2 separate regions of the Homo sapiens genome follow, and region 1 is linked to region 2. The links come from fine-mapping of genetic effects on gene expression. A gene starts in region 2. The other region holds a variant in brackets. All regions are shown on one strand. Distances are from middle to middle. Region 1 overlaps CDC27 (cell division cycle 27). Region 2 holds the start of CDC27 (cell division cycle 27).

The links.
Region 1: its variant is fine-mapped to the expression of CDC27 in non-classical monocytes (Schmiedel 2018, PIP 0.95).

The regions. Positions count from the first base shown.
Region 1 is chr17:47,145,084-47,153,419 of GRCh38, forward strand. CDC27 (cell division cycle 27) reads right to left here. Exons shown (of 19, transcript NM_001256.6): 9 at 6,723-6,835. Among named protein-coding and RNA genes, the nearest start is that of CDC27, 40 kb to the right of the region's middle. The variant TA/T (reference allele first, on the strand shown) is at 4,426.
Region 2 is chr17:47,186,020-47,194,355 of GRCh38, forward strand. It overlaps CDC27 (cell division cycle 27), which reads right to left and starts at 3,276. Exons shown (of 19, transcript NM_001256.6): 1 at 3,127-3,276. The coding sequence starts at 3,153. It also overlaps a transcript of MYL4 not described here. RefSeq lists a silencer at 2,801-2,850 and enhancers at 2,884-3,480, 3,011-3,200.

The DNA of each region.
Region 1 (8,336 bases), 41 kb before region 2:
GTCATGACAGAGTAAAATGGAATAAATTTATTCTCCCATTTCAGATAACTACAAACTGAACCAAATATATGGAACAATGGTTTTCAGACACTGGACAATAGGCAAAACATTTCCGAGGACAGTTCTAGGGCCACCTTGCAGGAAAAAAGAATGCAAAATAGAGCTCAGTGGTCCCACTGTGTTGAAAAGAAAATGTTGAGAATTTGAGAAAGCCAAAGCAGCCAGAATTTGCAAGGCAGAGCACCAGAGAGAAGAGAGCTACAAAGAGGAGACCTACAAAGATCTGCAGAGGGCTTCCCTAGAGTCTTCAGTTGAAAATTGATCAGTGTAGGTGTTTGAGTGTTATATAATAAAGAATTTGTCTGGTCCACGTCCCAGGCTCCTGAGATCTACTAAGTCCTTGGAATTCCTCAAGTGACAGGGATGTCTTTGTTATTCATTATGAGCTCCTGGGACCGTGCCTGAATTTATGCTAATGAAGTAACTCCTAGATACTTTCTGGATGGGTGCTGGCTGTGCTGTAAAGGTCAACCATGTGGCCGGGCATGGTGGCTCACACATGTAATCCCAGCACTTTGGCAGGCCAAGGCAGGCGGATCACGAGGTCAAGAGATCGAGATCATCCTGGCCAACATGGTGGAACCCCATCTCTACTAAAAATACAAAAATTAGCTGGGCATGATGGCGGGTGCCTGTAATCCCAGCCACTCGCGGGTTCAAGTGTAATCACTTGAACCCGGGAGGTGGAGGTTGCAGTGAGCCAAGATCGTGCCATTGCATTGCAGCCTGGGCGACAACAGCGAAACTCTGTCTCAAAAAAAAAAAAGTCAACCATGTGATTAGAGGGCTGGGGCTTTGAGCCAGCAACACCAGCCTGAGCTCCTCTGGGAAGGAAATTGAGTTCAATCATGTGGCCAATGATTCCATCAATCACACCTACATAATTTAAAAACCCTAATAAAAATTTTGAACACCAAAACTTGGCTCAAATTCCTGGTTTGTAAACATACTGATGCATTGGGAGGGTGAGCCCAGAAAGAAGACATGAAAGCTCTGTATCAGGACCCTCCCATATCTAATCCTATGGATCTCCTAATTATGTCATCTACAATAAAACTGTAATCATTAAGTATAGCACTTTCCTGGACTCTGTGAGGTGCTCTAGCAAATTACTGAATGTAAGAGGGTAGTAGGAATCCTTAAATTTGTAGCCAGTTGGTCAGAAATGTGGGTGGCCTGGGGAACCCAGAACCTACAACTGGGCAGTTCAGACAGTTCTTGTTGGGGACTGTGATCTTAACCTGTGGTGTCTGTGCTAAGTTTGGGTAGTTAGCATCAGAATTACATTATAGTACTATAGTGAAGAAACTACCCAAAGCTGGGGAAAGTATTACTGAAAAGAAGCAGACAGAATAATTACTGGATCTCACTCCAAGCTGGGAATAGCTCATACTTTCAATAGGCAGAGTGAAGAAACCTCATACTAAACAGGTTTTTGAGGAGAGTACTCAAAGGGTACTTCCTCAATGGTGGGACAAGATTAGTCCAGACTAAGGCTACTTTTGTCTGGACAAAATTTAAAAGGTAAGACCTGAAGGGATCAAGCTGTTTCCAAGCAACTTTACTGCATCTCAGAATAAAACTTTAAAATACCTAAAGGAATGCAAAAATATCCAGTAATCAACAATGTAAAATTTATAGCCAGGCACAGTGGCTCACACCTGTAATCCCAACAACTCGGGTGGGTGAGGTGGGAGGATTGCTTGAGGCCAGGAGTTTGAGAACAGCCTGAGCAACACAGCAAGACCCCATCTCTGCAAAACTAAAAAAAAATTAGCCATATGTGGCACGTGCCTATAGTTCCAGCTACCCAGGAGCCTGAAGTGGGAGGACTTCTTGAGCCCAGGAGTTTGAGGCTGCACTGAGCTATAATCACACCACTGTACTCTAGCCTGGGCATCAGAGTAAAAGACCCTGTCTCAAAGAAAAAAAGTAAAATTTATAATAACTGACATCCAATTAAAAAACACTAGGCAGCCGGGCGCGGTGGCTCACGCCTGTAATCCCAGCACTTTGGGAGGCCGAGACGGGCGGATCACGAGGTCAGGAGATCGAGACCATCCTGGCTAACACGGTGAAACCCCGTCTCTACTAAAAATACAAAAATTAGCTGGGCATGGTGGCGCGCGCCTGTAGTCCCAGCTACACGGGAGGCTGAGGCAGGAGAATGGCGTGAACCCGGGAGGCGGAGCTTGCAGTGAGTCGAGATCGCGCCACTGCACTCCAGCCTGGGCGACAGAGCGAAACTCCGTCTCAAAAACAAACAAACAAACAAACAAACAAACAAAAAAAAAAACACTAGGCATAGAAAACAGCAGGAAAATATAATCTACAATGAAGAGGAAAAGTAATATAAGAAACACTTAGAAATAACAAAGTAACAGACTTAGTAGGCAAAAACATTAAAAAAATACAAATACATCCTATACGTTCAAAAACATAGAAGAGACTGGATGAGGTGGCTCATGCCTGTCGGCCCAGCACTTTGGGAGGCCAAGCCAGGACTGCTTCAGGCCCGGAGGTCAAGATCTGCCTGGACAACATAGCAAGACCTTGTCTCATAGAGACCTTGTCCTTGTCTCTACAAAAAAATAAAAAATAAAAATAATCAGCCACATGTGGTGGCATGTGCCTGTAGTCCCAGCTACTCAGGAGGCTAACGCAAGAGAATCGCTTGAGCCAAGGAGTTTGAGGCTACAGTGAGCCATAGTAGCATCACTGCACTCCAGCCTGGGTGACAGTGAGACCCTGTCTCAAAAAAAAAAAAAAAAAAAAGGCTGGGCGCGGTGGCTCACACCTGTAATCCCAGCACTTTCGGAGGCCAAGGTGGGCGGATCACGAGTCAGGAGTTTGAGATCAGCCTGACCAACATGGTGAAACCCCATCTCTACTAAAAATACAAAAATTAGCAGGGCGCAGTGGCACATGCCTGTAATCCCAGCTACTCAGGAGGCTGAGGCAGGAGAATCGCTTGAACCCAGGAGGGGCGGAGGGTGCAGTGAGCCAGATTGTGCCACTGCACTCCAGCCTGGGCAACAGAGCGAGACTCTATCTCAAAAAAAAAAAAAAAGAAAGAAAGAAAACCAAATCAATCTAGAGATGAAAGACAAATGTCTGCAATAAAAAAACAAAACAAAACAAAAAACCCAACAACACTGGGTGTGGTTAATAACAGGTCTGACACTGCTGAAGAAACATTAATTTGAAGACATAGCAATAAACACTATCCAAAATGAAACACGGAGAGGAGAAAGATTGGAAACAAAAATGAAGAATTAGTGAGCTGTGGGGCAACTTCAAGCAATCTAATATACAAGTACCTGGAGTCCCAGAGGGAGAGGGTAAGACATGGACATAATATTTGAAGAAATAATGCCCCCAATTTAGCCAACTATTATGAAAACTATAAACCCACAGATCCAAGAAGCTCAATAAATCCAAAGGCCGAGAAACAACAAAGCTACACTAGAGCACATCATAATCGAATTGCTTAAAATCAGCAATTAAAAACAAAACCTTGAAACAGAGAAAAGACATATTACTACATATAGAGGAACAAAAATGAGATTGACAGCAGATTTCTTGTCAGAAACAATATAAGCCAAAAAACCAGTAAAGCAACATCCCTAAAAAAATTGTCAATTAGAAATTCTTGGCCAGGCGTAGTGGCTCATGCCTGTAATCTCAGCACTTTGGGAGGCCAAGATGGGCGATCACCTGAGGTCAGGAATTCAAGACTAGCCTGGCCAACATGGTGAAAGCCAATCTCTACTAAAAATGCAAAAATTAGCTGAGCATGATAGCACATGCCTGTAATCCCAGCTACTCGGGAGGCCGTGGCAGGAGAATTGCTTGAACTCGGGAAGCAGAGGTTGCAGGGAGCCAAGATTGTGCCATTGCACTCCAGCCCAGGCAACAAGCAAGACTCTGTCTCAAAAAAAAAAAAAAAAAAAGAAAAAGAAAGAAATTCTTGCCTAGTAAAAATATTGTTCAAAAATAAAGATGAAATAAGAACTTTTTTTCTGATCCACAAAAGCTGAAAAAATTCATTACCAGCTGACTCGTACTATAAGAAATGATAAAAAGGCCAGGTGCGGTGGGGCTCATGACTGTAATCCCAGCACTTCGGGAGGCCAAGGCAGGAGGATCACAAGGTCAAGAGATCGGGACCATCCTGGCCAACATGGTGAAACCCCGTTTCTACTAAAAATACAAAAATTAGCTGGGTGTGGTGGTGCACACCTGTAGTCCCAGCTACTCGGGAGGCTGAGGCAGGAGAATCGCTTTAACCCAGGTGGCAGAAGTTGCAGTGAGCCGAGATCGTGCCACTGCACTTCAGCCTGGTGACAGAGTGAGACTCTGTCT[TA/T]AAAAAAAAAAAAAAAAAAAAGAAATGTTAAAAAGAAGTCCTTCAAGGTGGAGGAAAATGATATCAGATCGCAATCTGGATCTATAGAAGGAAAGGGCACCAGAAATTGTAGTTATGTGTGTAAATATAAAATAGACTTCTTTTTCTCATTTAAAAAAATTTCAGCTGGGCATGGTAGCTCATGCCTGTAATCCCAGCACTTTGGGAGGCTGAGGCGGGTGGATCATTTGAGGTCAGGAGTTTGACGCTAGCCTGGCCAACATCGTGAAACCCTGTCTCTACTAAAAATACAAAAATTAGCCGGGCGTGGTGGCACATGCCTGTAATCCCAGCTACATGGGAGGCTGAGGCAGTAGCATTGCTTGAACTGGGGAGGTGGAGGTTGCAGTGAGCCGAGATTGCACCATTGCACTACAGCCTGGGTAACAGAGCGAAACTCCGTCTAAAACAAAAACAAAAACAAAAACAAAACTCTATAAAAAGACAACTGACTGTTTAAGGCAGAAACCACAACCACAATAATGCACTGTGGGGTTTATAACATATATAGAAATTAAATATATTACAGCCATCCCTCCCATAAAGACTAAGAGAGGAGCACGAAAGTATACTATTGTAAGGTTCTGTGCTATACATGAAATTGTCTATTACTTGAAGGCAAACCTTGATAAGTTAAAATGTTTACTACAAACTCCAAACAACCTTTAAAAAGACAAAATAAAGAGCAATTGCTAATAAGGCAATATTGAATTGTACCTCCCCAAAAGATATGTTGAAGCCCTAAGCCCCAGTACATGTCAATGTGATTTTATTCAGAAATTTGGTTTTTGCAGATGTCATTGAGTTAAGCTGAGGATATCTGGGTTGACCCTAATCCAATATAACTGTTGTCTTTACAAGAGGGAAATTTAGATACAGAAACACACATGGAAGATGACCATGTGAAGACAGAGGAAGATACTGAGTTATACTGTCACATGCTAAAGAACACCTGGGGTTATCAGAAGCTGGAGGAGGCAAGGAAAAATCCTCCTCTAAAGATTTTGGAAGGGGAACAACCCTGCCAACACCTTGATTTTGGACTTATGGCTTTACAACTGTAAGAGAATAAGTATCTGTTGTTTTAAGACACTAAGTTGTGGTACTTTGTTATGGCAGCCCTAGAAAACTAATATAGGCAATTAAGGAGATAAAATGGAATCAACAATACAAAGAACACAAAATTATTAAGAGTGAATGTTGGCCAGGCACGGTGGCTCATGCCTGTAATCCCAGCACTTTGGGAGGCTGAGGCAGGCGGATCACCTGAGGTTGGGAGTTCGAGACCAGCCTGACCAACATGGAGAAACCCTGTCTTTACTAAAAATACAAAATTAGCTGGGTGTGGTGACACATGCCTATAATCCCAGCTACTCAGGAAGCTGAGGCAGGAGAATCACTTGAACCCGGGAGGCGGAGGTTGTGGTGGGCCGAGATCACACCACTGCACTCCAGCTTGGGCAACAAGAGTGAAACTCCATCTCCATAAAAAAAAGAGCTGATGTTTATTAGTGTTAGTCTATTTGTTTGACTCTAAAGTGAAATGTACAAATCGGAAATTATTTTTACATATAATGTTGCTTTGCAGGAGGTCTCAAGTTCCTTCTCACAACAGAGCCTCAGGCAATCACTGCAAGCTGGCACTCAAGAGGATTAGACTTACCATTCTGGGAGCATTACAGGAACATAGAGGTCTTTTAGATAGTCAAGGAGGTATATGCACACCTGTGTGTATGTCTGTTTTAAAATTTAGGTACATGTTCACAGTTTTAGAAAGGAGAAAGAAAATTGTATCTTCCTTTTAAAATGTTAGCTATAATCTATTGAGTCCTTGAAGAGGAAAAGAAAATCCTATCTAACACCATTTCTGTGTGGAAATAGATTCATTATTTGAAGTTTATTTGTCTGTTATTTTTATAATCTGTTTATAGACATGCATAATGTGGGGAAGGGGAGTATGAAACCTATCTGTACCTAAACTATAGAAAGGGTCATGTGCATAAGAAGAAAATTACAAATCCATGAGGCAATCAGAGTAAACTAAAATGCTGCTTTAGTTAACTATTGTCTTCTGTGCATTACAAAACTCAACTCAAAATTACATTAGTGTTGTAAGTTAGAGGTTTCAAATTTTACATCTTCAAAATTTACAGTAGTTATTCTAGAATCCACGAGAGTCACTATCTGCCTAAATTAAAGAAATGTAAAGAATCAAGTTTTATGCCAAGAAAAGTTGAATAATTACAATGATAAATACCTTGTTTGTGGACCAGAACTTTGTGTTTGTGCAAGAATTGGAGTTACCTCTCGGCTATTTCCACTCTGTGAGAAGACAGACTTTGTTCCAGTTTGGCCGATTCTGGCAACAGACTGTAAAACACGAAAAGTCTAAGGTTTGTGAATTATGGGCTGCACTGTAAATGATAAAAGACAACACAACGCTCCCATCTACATTTTCTCAATACAAGCAGCCATAATATACTGTCACCTTAAAGATAAACTATTTATATCATATTGTTAATTATTGTTGTATTAGTATGAACATCAGTCTATTTCCCTGTTTTAATCTCACAGTATTTTTACCTCTATAATGTCTTTTCATCTTTCGCTTTTTGTTTCAAAGACTAAAAATCCCCAGAAGCTATTCTTTTCATCTCATTGTGACCATCCTCCATTTATTACATACCTTCTCTATTTGGGGTTAAGTACTAAAAAATTTTAAGACAGCTAAATTCTCAAGATTTATGATTTATCTCATTATACACAGAAAAAAATAATAATACGATAAGATTTTATACTCCTTTGGCACTTGGTAACAGTTCTAAAGGAGTTCAGAGGAGTAGATTTTAAAAAAACAACCATCTGATTACTTTCCAAAACCTAAGGATATTGTTCTTTAGAGTTAATATTGCTTAGTTTTTCTAATCTTCATTAATTGGTTTCTGTTCCCTTGGAGAAAAAAAAATCTTTGCTTGGCTCTTCAGTCTTCTCTAATTTATTCCCTTATTTCTATTCATTTCCACCATCTAGCTTCTTTAAATGATCTATGACTATTGTATCAGTGCACTGTTTTTCCCCTTTGGCTACCAGAGAATTTTCTTCAAAACTTACTGTTACCCTGATGTCCTGTACACAATCCTCAAACTGCATATTATAAATAATCACTAATAATCACTGTCTCATCAGATATTAAAACCTTATTTTAGCCTTTCCTGCATTCAACATCACTGATCATGCCCTACTTTTTGAAACTTTGTGTTACTTCCAAAACATTACATTATTTGTCCTGCCACTTCATTTGCTGGCCCTTTATCCTTCTACTATTTTTAAATTAGGTTTACTCTGTTCTCCTTAGCTACTCTTTCTTTCCCTAGGAGAGCCTGGTCATTTTAATAGTTTCAATTATTATTTCTATCAGCAGGTCACATTTTTTCCTCTATGACTAACTTTCTACTGAATATTTTCATCTAATGTACCACCACTTCAAAATAAAACTTCATAAGCCTTCCTCCGCCTTTTCCAAATTGGGATCACTACATTCATCCAAGGGACAAAAGTCAACTCTGGCTTTTCCTTATTTATCAAAGAACTATGTACACTGCACTCAATACCTGGTTTGATATTTTCAGTTGACACTGCATGCAGACCTACATGCGTGACTTTTCTGGGAATGTCTTGTAATAAGGTAAGAGGAGAACAGAGGCAGAAGAGGATGAGAGAGCAATCTTATCTGGGCACTAAAATCATGTGCCTGCCCACTGTCTTAACTTGCTCTGGTTATTATGGTTATTATGGCTCTTCTAGTTTTGGCCTACTTCACCTGGCATGCTAACTACCATTTTGTTTTGCCTTCTTCATAACTGTAATGTTT
Region 2 (8,336 bases):
AGCTTGCCCCAAATGTCAATAGTGCTCAGATTAAGCAGCCCTGGTCTACATGATCATGCAGTTGGATTATTCTACTAGTCTGTATGTCTAACTCTTGTCTCTTCCTCCCTTTCCAACAGCACCAGATAAATATTCCCAAAGTGGTGCTTTTATTACATAATTCCTCTGCTCAAAAACTCTTCTGCTCATATAATGGTTATTCATTACCAATGCACATTAAATCTAAATTTCTCATTGAGTAGCCAAAATATGTTACTCTTTGAATCCATGTTAGATGCTGTCCCTGAACATTTTATCCCCAGCCAAGAGTACTCCTTCACCATCTAATGATCTCTAAAACAGTATCATGTATATAGTACCCAATTGCTATATTGCTTATTAAATTAATTTTCGAAAGGCTTATTTACAACTTCATCCAACACTTCTGTGAAGTCTTACCCCTAGGAATAATTGCTAAATCTATATAAAATCTCTTTGCTTCTTTTTTAAAAACCAATTTCACCAGGTGACTTTTATAAATATTCAAAAAGCTCTCACTGAAGTCACTTAGGCTAGTGTGTCTTTCCAAATAGTTACCATTAAAAATAAAAGAACTGACAGAAATTCTGCCTCATATGTGAGACTTTTGTAAGGACTCAAATATAAAGTAATACTCTTCTGAGAGGTAGTAATTTGAGACGGAGTTTTAATTTAGGCATATATGGTATATCGGACTGGCCATTCTACATTAAAACTTTAAAGAAAAAAAAATGCAGAAAACAGTTCTTCATATTTTCTGTGAACTTTTTCCTATGCCTAGTAATACCATCAACTCTGAGGCATTCCAAGAAAGAACAATTTTCCAACTTACTCTCATTGCTTTCCAAATACACGCAATCTGTCATCATAGTTTTTTTTTTAATAAAGACAGTATCTTATATATCTGTCCTATTTTTATTCTCTTCCTAATTCTTTCCCATTTGCAGCACTATCCCTGATCATTGATCTTTATCATTGTAGCCAAAGTTGCTTGTTCTTCTCACTGTTCCAAATCCATTCTTGAATGGCTTCTTATACTATACAACCAAAATTTTCACCTAGTCATATCCTAAAACTTTCTACCACTATCTCAAAAATCTAATGGACAATGCTGCTATGAAAAAGAAGCAAATTTGACATTTAAGCCTTAAAAATATCAAAGTGTATTACTGCTCAGAGTACTTTAAGGACAAACAGGAAACCTGATGGGTACTATCTAGAAACAGGCTACATATTCCTTTTCTTTTCCATGCTTTTATTTTTTATTTATTTATTTATTTTGAGATGGAGTCTCACTCTGTCGCCCAGGCTGGAGTGCAGCGGGACCATGTCGGCTCACTGCAAACTCCATCTCCTGGGTTCAGGCAATTCTCCTGCCTCAGCCTCCCAAGTAGCTGGGATTACAGGCGCCCACCACCACGCCTGGCTAATTTTTTATATTTTTAGTAGAGACAGGGTTTCACTGTGTTGGCCAGGCAGGTCTCGAACTCCTGACCTCAGGTGATCCACCCGCCTCAGCCTCCCAAAGTGCTGGGATTTCAGGTGTAAGCCACCACGCCCGGCCTTCCATGCTTTTATAAAGTCTGAAATTATTATTAAATGGTGGTTATAGTCTATCAATGCAACTAGTTTATCACTTTAGAAGACTTCTGGGGCCAGAGAAGGCAAAAAAAAAAAAATCATTAACTATTAAAACAAAATTATAAGAATATGCAACAGAAATTAAATAACTTGAGTAATCTGCTTATCTATTTAAGTTCATGTTAGGCCTTAAAAAATTATATATATATAATTACCTCATCTACAGCCAGAATAAAAAAAAATCTTAAAAGAAACTATACTGGTAAAAAGAATTTGGATGGAAATAGCTCTAGAAAAACTAATACAACTTACAGACAGGTAAATTTCATAAGATATAATCTTACGTTTTATTAATTCAAACACTAATAGCTGCTATATGTAAACAGCTGGAGAAAAAAACCAAACTAGAAGAAATGAGTATTTCATGCTGTTTAGAAAAATGAAATAAATATGAAAGTAGTGATATATTAAAATATTTACTGTTTGATACCTCAAGCCTTTTAAGGGCAATATGAAGGAATTTCTAAAAATCAGTTTGCTTTATAACTTCAAAATAAAGTCCATGACTCAATGACAGCAGTTGATAGAGGTCAATTCTGATCAAGTTAAAGATCATATAGTGGGATGAAGTCTCCCAGACCTGGTCCATTACCAAGGCACAAAAGATACAGTTTCTCCAGATGTCAGGGGGGAAAATGACTTGGCACCGCATCACACACTTAAAATCCAATAGGGTTCCTTTAATGCAACACAGCACTGTGCGTCAAAGCATACCCTGGTGTAAAGGCAGTGAAATGGACAGAAACACCATTATTTGTGTTTCATTTCCTGAATGCCTTATAAACATGCACAACAAAATGCTCCTGATCCCCATCAGAGAGGATGAAAACAACCCAAATGTGCCCTTTCCACCTCCTCCCCTGGTATTGGTGCTTGCGCCTCAGCACTGAGGCTTGGAGTTGTCTTCTCAAACCATCATTGTCCGGTGGGAAATTCACCGAGAAAGGAAACGTGGGATAGGAAGTCTGTTACCAAAATAGAAATTAGTATTAAAAAGACCGATCCTACGCTCCCTCCACCCTCTCATACAAGACAAAATAAAAAAAACCTCCGTAAACTTGCCCTACCGTCACGAAGATCACACAAGCTCCGATCAAATGTGCTTCTCGATCATCTTTTAGGCAAGAGAGCGCTTGGGGTGCATTTTCGGCCCCTCATCTCCCACCCCCAGTCAAGCCAGGCCCCTGGACTGACAGGAAAGGCTGGCCGGACGTTGGCTCGGACGGGAAAGGCGGTTATTTTCGCCGAAGCCGCTCACGCTAAGGGTGAAGTAATGTAGGGCCAGAGGTAACACGGCTTAGGCTGTGGGCAAGGCCTCCGAACTGACTAAAGATAGGCAGGACACGGCAGCAGGGGAGGCGGGAGAAGCAGCCGGGCCTAGGCCGCACCAGGCCGCGGAGTGGCCCTACGCTGCTGCTTCCCGACCGAGGCTGCCAGCCAAGCCCCAGAGAAGAAGGTTATCATTACCTGGACGGGTTCCTGCAGCACCGTCATCCTCGAGGCTCAGGCCCACTTTCTGCAGTGCCTCAGGCCCCCCCTGTAGCGGCTCCGGCCCGGCCAGCCCCTGCTCATTTAAACTCACCAGCGACCGTTACCGGGGGATGGGGGAGGCCGAGCGATTGCCGAGTGCTTCCGAGCGGGACACGGGAATACCCGAAGTGGAGAAAGCCGAGCGGGAACCAGACGGAAAAGCCCGAAGGGAGTCGGAAATACCCGAGGTTGGTCGACGAGAGAGAAAACCGTTGCCGGAAATTGTCGAAGATTACCGGAAGCTACCGAGTCTGACCCAAAGCGTAGGTTTCTCTTCTCAGCCACGCCTTCAGCCACGCACACCACGCCCAATCGGCCGTCCCAGGGTTGGGCTACGCCAAATCTGCAACCAGCAGGCTGGGCGTGGCGTGACAGCGCGGGCGGGTAGCGTTACGTGGCGGGGCTGCAGTGTGGATTAGCCCCTCAGCCCTTTTGGATTAATTGGTGTGCTGTAGATTATGAAGCAAAGGGTGAAACAGCAGAGTTTGGGGCTGTCTTTAATGAATCAACAAGTATTTGTCTATTGAGTTTAGATCATTCGTCCATTCCAGAAGTATCTACTCACGGCTCTGGGGGAAAGCTAAAGAAATTTGGAAAGATTGCCACTCCCCAAAGACATAGGATAGCTTCTGTCTTCAAGGAGATTAAGGTCTATTTAAGGGAAAAGCAGTGTAACAGAGAACGCTATATTATATGGTGCCTATTATAAGTAATATAAAAATTCAGAGAGGGCAATTGTGATAAGATAAGGAAAGTTCTATGGAAGGAAAAAAAAGTTTAAAATGGAGTTTGAAGGATGGGTAAAATTAGAGGAAAAAGAAGTATAGGAAAGTGAAGGGAGGAAAAATGGGATCAGTCTGCTAAGAAGGCATTAATTGGAAATAGTTACTTAGGTGAAGAGATCATGGAAAAGCTCAATAGGCCATTAGAAATTTTTATTTTTGATAGGTGAGGCATTCCGCTGTGGTGGGAAGAGTAGGGGGTCGGAAATTCAGAGGCCTGGTTTTGAATTTTATCTTTAGCACTAACTAGTCATAGGTCCTTGGCAAATTACCTCTCTGAACTTATGTTCGCTTAGTTTGAAAAAAAAGGATTAAGAGAATTCGATGTATTATAAATGTGGCCGTGTCTAGCATGCAATGTAGACTCTCTCATATTTCCTTTCTGCTCCCCTTCTCCCCCCAAAAAGAGTGAACCAGGGGACTGTTTAAATTTTGTTTTTCAGCAGATGAGGAAACAGTTTTTGAAAGTTACTTTTCTAGTCAGGAGCTCTCTAGGCTAGATGTGAGAATCATGATATATTCCATTGCTTGGAAATTTCCCTTTGGGTGATGTTAGAGGGAGATATTTTTTCTTTCATTTTTAAAAACAAGGCTGACAGAGCTACACTGCATCCTTCTCCACCGCCTTGTCTTGTCACTGTATATATACTTATAGCCCCTAAAGGGCAGGTGCTAAGATGATTTTTGGCTGCCCTGTGCCCAGTTGCTTTAGCGGGATTATGCTGGATGACTTGAGTGGTAACAGACTTTTACACTGGCCTGGAAAGTAGCCATTAGCTATTTAAAGTTTAAGTTAAAATGAAATTAAAAATGAAGTTCTTCAGATGCCCTAGCCACATTCCAAGGATTCAGTAGCCCTGTATGTGGCTAGTGACTGCCATATTGGACAGTCACACAGATATAGAAGAACATCACCAGCACTGGCTTGGCTAGGGCTGAAAGATTCAAGATGGCTTCACTCACATGTCTAGGGTGTCAGTGGTAGCTATTGGCTGGGTCCTTCATTTCTTCTCTGCATGACCTCTCTTTTCACACTGGCCTCTTATGAGTCAGTAGTTTAGCTCCAGCTTCTTGACTTGGTGGTTGACAACAAAGTGCGCAAAAATAGAAGCTGTGAGGTCCCTTAGGCCTAGGCCTGTGAGCATCACTTCTTGTTGGTCAGAGTAAGACTCAGAGCCACCCTGGATTCACCAGGAGGAATAGTCTACTTCTTAATGGGAAGAGTGGCAAAGTAACACCACAAAGGGCGTGTGCCATGGGAGGAGTTTTTGGGTCATCTTTGGAAACAATCTACCACGCTAGATATGAGATGAGAGTATCTAAGATTGGGAATGGAAAGAAAGGGATAAGTAAGAGCTATCACTCTTAAAATGTGACCCTTTCAACTGAACACAGTACTCCAGATTTATTCTGAATAATTCAGAATGCAGTTGGACTATTATTATCTGGACACGTCTATTAAAGTGGACTACAGTTGTATTTACATTTTTTTTTTCCGAGACTGAGTCTTGCTCTGTTGCCCAGAGCTGGAGTGTAATGGCGCAATCTCGGCTGACTGCGTCCTCCGCCTCCGGGGTTCAAGCAATTCTCCTGTCTCAACGTCCCGAGTAGCTGGGATTGCAGGTGCGCACCACCACGCCCGGTTAATTTTTGTATTTTTAGTAGAGACGGGGTTTCACCATGTTGGCCAGGCTGGTCTCAAACTCCTGATCTCATGATCCACCCATCTCGGCCTCCCAAAGTGCTGGGATTACAGGTGTGAGCCACTGTGCCCAGCCTGTATTTACATTTTTTAGCAGTCACATGACACTGTTTGCTCATGCTAAACTTGTGTGGTCATTTACGGACTCAGCTCTTTTTCACACAACATGCTGCCAACCCAAGTCTTGTATGTGTGCAGCAGAGTTTTGTAAACCTAAATATAGGACCTTACCACAGAGGATACATAAAGATGATACTTTGTGAAAATATGGATCTAGAGTCAGCATTTAAAGAGCCTCTGATGCTTGGCACTCTGGCTTATAGGCTTAGAATTTGCCTAAAGCCTTTTTTCTTTTTTTAACCTAAAAAAGAGCATTTCCTGGCTGGGTGAGGTGGCTCACGCCTGTAATCCCAACACTTTGGGAGGCCAATGCAGACGGATCACCTGAGGTCAGGCGTTCCAGACCAGCCTGACCAACATGGAGAAAACCTGTCTCTACTAAAAATACCAAATTAGCTGGGCGTGGTGGCACATGCCTGTAATCCCAGCTACTTGGGAGGCTGAGGCAGGAGAATCGCTTGAACCTGGGAGGTGGAGGTTGCGGTGAGCTGAGATTGCGCCATTGTTCTCCAGCCTGGGCAACAAGAGCAAAACTCCGTCTCAAAAAAAAAAAAAGGCCAGGCGCGTTGGCTCACGCCTGTAATCCCAGCACTTTAGGAGGCCAAGGCGGGCAGATCACAAGGTCAGGAGATCGAGACCATCCTGGCTAACACAGTGAAACCCCATCTCTACTAAAAATACAAAAAATTGGCCGGGCGTGGTGGTGGGCACCTGTGGTCCCCAGCTGCTGGGGAGGCTGAGGCAGGAGAATGGCGTGAATCTGGGAGGCGGAGCTTGCGGTGAGCTGAGATCGGGCCACTGCACTCCAGCCTGGGTGACAGTGCAAGACTGTGTCTCAAAAAAAAAAAAGCATCTCCTTTCTGATTGTTGTTGACCAGGCTAATACATCTGTTGTGGTTTCTACTCATCCACAGCAAAGCCACATTGTTTGAAGTACTTTGATGGGGTATTTTGGAGTGTTTTTACTTCCTTCTCTGCTCCTAATTGACCTACTTAAACTCGCTATTCATCAACCACTTGGGCATCCTGCTGTCATCCGTTATCCAATATGTTTGGCTAGTGAGTGGAGTTGGGTTACAACAGCATTATTCCAAAAATGGAATTGGAAAATTATTTTTTCTCCTAAGCCTGCTTCTTGGTCTATTTCATATTCAGTCAGATTTGGAGGCTGGCATTTAGGGAACTATTCAAAAAGCTAGACGTGATATCAGTAGCAAAATGTAGGTCCCACTGAAACATAGCCCAGAGTAAGTGTACTCTCCTGAAGTCTTTCAGTCCTCCTTGTCTGTACCCTTCATTTTGTCCCTGTTGCGTGCGGTTTTATGGCCTCCTTACCTGACCTTGCACCCCACCACCCCCACCCCACCCTCACCATGTTTACTCTTTGGTCAAATCATCCTCTTCTTTTGGCTTCTCTAATGACACCATCTCCTAGCTTTCCTCCTACTGCTCTGTTTTTGTTTGTTTGTTTGTTTGAGAGAGTCTCGCTCTGTCACCCAGGCTGGAGTGCAATGGCGCTATCTCGGCTCACTGCAGCCTCCGTCTCCTGGGTTCAAGCGATTCTCCTGCCTCAGCCCCCTGAGTAGCTGAATTTACAGGTGTGCGCCACCACACCCAGCTAATTTTTGTATTTTCAGTAGAGACGGAGTTTCGCCATGTTGGCTGGGCTGGTCTCGAACTCTTGACCTCAAGTGATCTGCCTGCCTCAGCCTTCCAAAATGCTGGGATTACAGGCATGAGCCACTGCGCCTGGCCTACTGCTCTGTTTTTTAATCGGTTTCCTTTGCAGCTCCTCTGCCAGCCCCTTTAATATTAAGCATGCTTCAAGGACCTGTTCTAGGCCTTCTTCTCACCCACCCTACACATTCTTCTTAGGCAAAACTATCCTTTCTTTCTTTCTTTCCTTCCTTCCTTCCTTCCTTTCTTTCTTTCTTCCTTTTTCTTTCTCTTTCCTTTCTTTTGAGACAGAGTCTCACTCTGTCACCCAGGCTGGAGTGCAGTGGTGTGATCTCAGCCCGCTGCAACCTCCACCTCCCAGGTTCAAGCGATTCTCCTGCCTCAGCCTCCCGAGTAGCTGGGACCACAGGCACACGCCACCATGCCAGGCTAATTTTTGCATTTTTAGTAGAGATGGGGTTTCGCCATGTTGGCCAGGCTGGTCTCCTGACCTTAGGTGATCCACCCACCTTGGCCTCCCAAAGTGCTGGGATTACAGGCGTAAGCCACCATACCCCGCCCCTATCCATTCTTGTGGCCCCAGTTTCTCATCTACAAATGGTTTGAAAAATTTGTATCTCCAGCCAGACTACTTTTTAGAGCTCCAGGCCCAAATGACTAACTGCCAAGAGGACACCTTTATCTGGATGTCTCATAGGTACTTTGTTCGGAATGGAACCCCTCATTGTCTTAAAATATTTCCTATCCCAGTTTAAGATATCACCATCTTTTCCATTGCCCAAAAGATTAGATAAGGGTTAGTTTAACAAGGTTTGTACAGATTTATTCCCAGCCTCAGCTCTGTCTCTGGTGATAAGAATGGCTTT